2 separate regions of the Homo sapiens genome follow, and region 2 is linked to region 1. Evidence: fine-mapped expression QTL. A gene starts in region 1. The other region holds a variant in brackets. All regions are shown on one strand. Distances are between the middles of the regions. Region 1 holds the start of GTF2H5 (general transcription factor IIH subunit 5). Region 2 has its middle 35 kb from the start of GTF2H5.

Region 1 (2,918 bases):
TATATAATATACAATATATTATATGTAATATACAATATATGTAATATACAATATATTATATGTAATATACAATATATGTAATATACAATATATTATATATAATATACAATATATTATATATAATATACAGTATATTATATATAATATACTGTATATTATATATAATATACAATATATTATATAATATACAATATATTATATATAATATACAATATAATATATATAATATATAATATATATAATATACAATATATTATATATAATATATAATATACAATATAATATTATATATAATATATAATATACATATTATATATATGTATTATATATAATATACGTATTATATATAATATACATAATATACATATTATATATTATATATAAAATAAATATATATTATATATAAAATACATATATAATATATATATATGTATATATACACTTCGAGACAGAGTCTCACTCTGTCGCCCAGGCTGGAGCGCAGTGTCGTGATGTCGGCTCACTGCAACCTCTGCCTCCCGGGCTCAAGCGATTCTCCTGCCTCAGCCTCCCAAGCAGCGGGGACTACAGGCGCCCGCCACCACGCCAGGCCAAATTTTGTATTTTTAGTAGAGGCAGGGTTTCACCATGTTGGCCAGGCTGGTCTCGAACTCCTGATCTCAAATGATCCACCTACCTCGGCCTCCCAAAGTGCTGGGACAACAGGTGTGAGCCACCGCGCCAGGCCAATTTATTGTATTTTTAGTGGAGACGGGGTTTCACCATGTTGGCCAGGCTGGTCTCGAACTCCTGGCCTCAAGTGATTTGCCCGCCTCGGCCTCCCAATGTGCTGGGATTGCAGGCGTGAGCCACCGCGCCCGGCCTCAGCCACCTCATTTTACATATGAGGAGACCAAAGGAAGAGATTAAGCCGTAGTTCCTGGCCAAAGGAAAAAAGTACAAGCCAGATCTCCAGATCTTGTGCCCCTTCACTAAATAAATCACGTCCCGTGCGGACCTAGGCTGGAAACAAACCACTCAGCGTACGCCCATTTAATTAACTTCCACTTACACCTGGGCGCAGGGCGAGCCCTAGCCCCACAGGAAACCCACGATTAAACGAGGGGGGGACTGCCGTGCGGCCCCGCCAGGAAGGGCCCGGAGAGAGTGGGGGACACCGCCCTGTGCCCCCAGCACCCGGTGGACAGGCTTCTGGGGCTTTTCTCTTCCTCTCCCCTTTCTTTGGGACCCCTCAGTGTTCCCACACCCCACTTTCCCCAGCCGCTCGGACGCTCGCCACACACCTCGGCCCACAGATGCAGAAGCGCCTCGGCGTTGCCGGCAGAGTGCGCCTGCGCCGATACGCCATCGCGCTAGGGACGCTATTGTGGGTGGAGCCAGCCGGCGGGAGGCGGGCCCAGAGCGGGCCGAGGGGGCGGGGTCACGAGCCGCCAGCCGCCGGGTGGAGGGTCCCGGCCGGGAGCCGCGGAAAGAGTAGGGCTCCCCAGACAACGGGGTCCGACGAGCAGTTGGGCACGGGCTGAGTCCGCCTGCCGGCAGGTAGGACGTGAAGGCAGGGGTGGTGTGGGGGCGGACGGGGGCGTCGGCGCAGCTGGGCGCGGTGGGGAGCGGAGAATGGGGAGGGCAGGGACCGGGCACGGCCGAGCACCGCCGTCTGGCGCGCGGACCGGACCGACCAGCTGACGCTCGGCTGGGCGTGAGGGCCTCTCTCTCTGGTGGTCGCGAGCCTGACTCGTCTTTCCCTGTCGCTGCCTTTCTCTGGCTGCTGTCGAGGCCTTGGGGAGTGCACCTGCCGGTCCGTCTTCCCGGGCTCGGTAGTCACGGAGAGATGAGGAGGAGGAGGAAAGGGCCTCACCAGTCACTTCTGAGCCTTGCAGACCACCGCTTCCTGCTCCCTCTCTAACCCCAGAGATGGAATAGATTGAATGCTGAGAGAGCTCTAAACTCGGCAACGGTCATTTTAAAGTGAAAGACCCCAGAAGGTTCTAAAGTTACTCCCTTTCCCCAAGTCTGTTCTGTAAGTCTAAAGGAACACTGTCATTATTTTTACTAGTTGAGATATGAGATTCTTGTTTTCTGTTCCTTAGGTTAAATTGTACTTCCCGCATTAAGCTCATGCTGCCTTTTTTTTTTTTTTTTTTGAGATGGAGTCTCGGTCTGTCTGCCAGGCTGGAGTGCAGTGGCGCGATCTGGGCTCACTGCAACCTCCGTCTCCTGGGTTCAAGCAATTATCCTGCCTCATTCTCCCTAGTAACTGGGATTACAGGCGTGCGCTACCACGCCCGGCTGATTTTCGTATTTTTAGTAGACACGGGGTTTGTCCATGTTGGCCAGGCTGGTCTGGAATTCCTGACATCAGGTGATCCCCCGCCTCGGCCTCCCAGAGTGCTGCGATTACAGGTGTGAGCCACCGCGCCCGACCTCATGCTGCCTTTTTTTTTTTTTTTTTTTTTTTAACATCGTGTGTGTTCATGTGATCGCTAAGGAACCCAGCTCTTCCATTTAGTTCCCTCTTTCTATCCCTCAAATCTTTTCCAACTGGTGATTTCCATATTGTTGCACTCTCTTTAAAATAAAAAAATTGCCTCCAAGTCTTCTTCTTCCCAAGTATCTTTTATTTGCTTTTTTTCATCTTGCATACATTCTCTTCCTTGATCTCATCAGTTCCATTTTTGTGCACTTGATGTGTGTCAGCTATTATTCTAGACGCTTGGGATACAATGGTGAACAGGTAACTAATTTTGGTGGGGGCAGAGAGACTCTGAAATCAGTTAAGGAATAAGTACCATTTGGTGATGTGATAAAGAGTGACTAGAGGGGTTATTTTGGCCAGGGGGATGTCAGAAATGGCCTTAATTTCTGCATTTAAAAACTTCTGTATACCAGTAACAATTAACTAGGAGTTTTAATAATAAAAA
Region 2 (2,918 bases), 35 kb before region 1:
CCCCCGGTTGGCATCCTAAAGCTTCTTCACATTAATGCCAGACCTTGTCTTTAATCCCCAAGTTTCTCCCCGGAACGGGGGTGGAAGTAGAAAGGAGTTTTAGGTCAGTGTTTGTGAGGTGCTAGGTGGATTGACAGCTAGATAATGAGTGCCGGGGAGACCCTCATCTGACGCCTTAACTTGCCATTTCTGTGGTTCCTGGAGTCAGCTTTCAAATCCTCCCCCTTGCCCCACAGTGGCTCCCTCATGGCCAGATTTAATGTGCATCCGACTCCTCTGGGAAACCCGGTAAGATGCAGATTCTGATTCAGTTAAGTTAGGAATGCGCTCCCAGGTTGGGGCCAGTGCTGCTGGTCTGGAAACCCTCTTGGTTTCTCAGGTCTCTGGAGCCTCCAGACTCCTCTGGCAGTGGCAGAAAAGAAGTTGGGGACTCCCCAGAGAAACCTGGTTAGTGGAAGAAAAGGGTACTTCCTTCACGGGGTCACTGCTCCTCCGAGTGGATTGTGGACTCACGGAGGGACGTTCTAGAACACTCTAGCCTGGCAGCCCAAAATTTGGCTTTCCAGGGAAGAAGAGGCCTCAACTGTGGTGATTCTGAGGCTCTTGGTTTCATAAGAAGAGAGGAAGATGCAGAGGGGACGGGGAAGACCTTTGATCATCACTTGAGGCCATGGAGTTTGTGGGCTTTGGGAGTGCTGAGGCTTCCTATGGACAGCTGTTCTCCTGGAGACCCAAGAGAGAGACCTGGCCCTCCCCTCCTTTAAGGCAAAATGATTTCAACATCACCTCACCTGGCTAACTTCTGGTGCATTTGGAATCCCTTCCACAGGGCTTGGCCACCTGGCAATGTGTAGATCTCAAGATCAGCTGTTAGAACTAATATTATTTTTAAAAAACTTGTTTGAAGAGTTAATGTGTTCAGCTGCTTTTGTTCTTCCCAAACGGAAGTGTCACATGAGCAAATAACATACTCTATGATTTGGGGATGGCAGAAAAAGAATCACCAAGCAGAATAAACTTCTATTTTTCTTTGGAGCTCTGTTAAGTACCCCATTGGACTGAATCTGGGTTTTAAGGAAACAGAAATCATTACAATCTACAAAGCAGTCGTATTTCCTTCTCATTACTCTTCCTCAGATTACTCCCTCTGCATTAATTC[C/T]TCCTGAGGATACGATTCAGAAAATGTGAACTGCTCAGGTCATCACGTTTCAAATCCTATGCCTGTCTTTCTTGCTGTGTTGATTAATATTTTCGGCTGTGCCTGCTTAATTGTCAATCAATAATGTTCCTTTCTGGCTTCTGCCAATATTTTATGTTCATTTTAGAATTTCCAATACAGAAGTTTAACCCAATATATTAATATCAATTTAGCAGAGAGAGTATATCTCCTAAAACATTACCACTTGTGAAGTATTAGAATGTTTATTTATTTATTTATTTATTTATTTATTTACTGAGACAGAGTCTTACTGTGTCACCCAGGCTGAAGTGCAGTGGTGCAGTATCGGCTCACCACAACGTCTGCCTCCCTGGTTTAAGCGATTCTCCTGCCTCAGCCTCCCAAGTAGCTGGGATTACAGGTGCTTGCCACCATGCCCGGCTAATTTTTGTATTTTTAGTGGAGATGGGGTTTCGCCATGTTGCCCAGGCTGGTCTTGAACTCCTGACCTCAGGTGATCTGCCCACCTCAGCCTCCCAAAGTGCTGGGATTACAGGCGTGAACCACCGTGCCCGGCCTAGAACATTTTATCAAGTATAAGGTTCTAAAACATCTGGTGTGAATATTTGTTATTAAGGACAGTTAACTTTGCCAAGTACTTGGGATTAAATTAAATTTGGAGATTAAATTTAAGTTTTTGTGACCTGAAGATTTTAATAATTTCTAGACACTTGCAGGAACAAGCCTGTCAAGAGAATTTATTGTATATCTTTTCTTCTTAACTAACAATCAAATGATCAATTGATAGATCAATTGGTGTATTTATGCAATACTTATTATCCCTTTCAAAAAAACGGTTTTGGGTTTGGGGAAGGAGACAGTATATATGCCATAAAGCAATCAGTTCAAGAAACTTGACAATCGAATACTTAATCATCATGAGGAGAAAGATATTGATGATAATGAATCTTTTATCTTTTAAAGGGAATCTACTGTCAGTTTTGTTCCACTTAAAACTTTGGGAGACGGATACATATAACACATATAGAATATTATCTATCCATATGGTCATGGTCTCTGCCTCATTAAACATTTTTCTTTTTCTTTTTTTTTGTTTTTTGGAGACAGAGTCTCACTCTGTTACCCAGGCTGGAGTGCAGTGGCATGATCTCGGCTCACTGCAATCTCCGCCTCCCAGATTCAAGTGATTCTCCTGTCTCAGCCTCCTGAGTAACTGGGATTACAAGCATGCACCACAACGCCTGGCTAATTTTTTGTATTTTTAGTAGAGATGGGGTTTCGCCATGTTGCCCAGGCTGGTCTTGAGCTCCTGAGCTCGGGTGATCCCCTGCCTTGGCCTCCCAAAATGCTGGGATTACAGGGTTGAGCCACTGCGTCCGGCCTAAACATTTTTCTTTAACTTCTATTTCTCTATGACACCATCACTTTGGGTGTTTGAGCTTAGCTACTCAAAATGTGACCTGCCAGACAGCAGCACTGCCATCCCCTGGAAGCCTTCTAGAAATGCAGAATCTCAGGCCCCAGCCCACACCCACTTAATCGGAATCTGCATTCTAAGGACTTCCAGATGATTTGTAAGTACTTTAAAGTTGAAAAGCACTGATATAGACTAAGAAGCCCTCAAAGGCATATCTGCCTCAGTCAAGACCATAACAACTTTATGCTGGAAAATTTTCAGAGTGGCTTTTGGACCAATTGCCCAGTATAGTCATAGTTAGAGGTTTAAACACTCATAGAA

What was found. PIP is the estimated chance that this variant, and not a neighbour inherited with it, causes the effect.
Region 2: its variant is fine-mapped to the expression of GTF2H5 in whole blood (INTERVAL, PIP above 0.99).

What each region holds. Positions count from the first base shown.
Region 1 is chr6:158,166,761-158,169,678 of GRCh38, reverse strand. GTF2H5 (general transcription factor IIH subunit 5) reads right to left here and starts at 1,329. Exons shown (of 3, transcript NM_207118.3): 1 at 1,284-1,329. It overlaps SERAC1 (serine active site containing 1), which reads left to right and starts at 1,417. Exons shown (of 17, transcript NM_032861.4): 1 at 1,417-1,539. RefSeq lists silencers at 1,330-1,509, 1,550-1,619.
Region 2 is chr6:158,202,155-158,205,072 of GRCh38, reverse strand. No RefSeq gene overlaps it. Among named protein-coding and RNA genes, the nearest start is that of GTF2H5, 35 kb to the right of the region's middle. The variant C/T (reference allele first, on the strand shown) is at 1,160.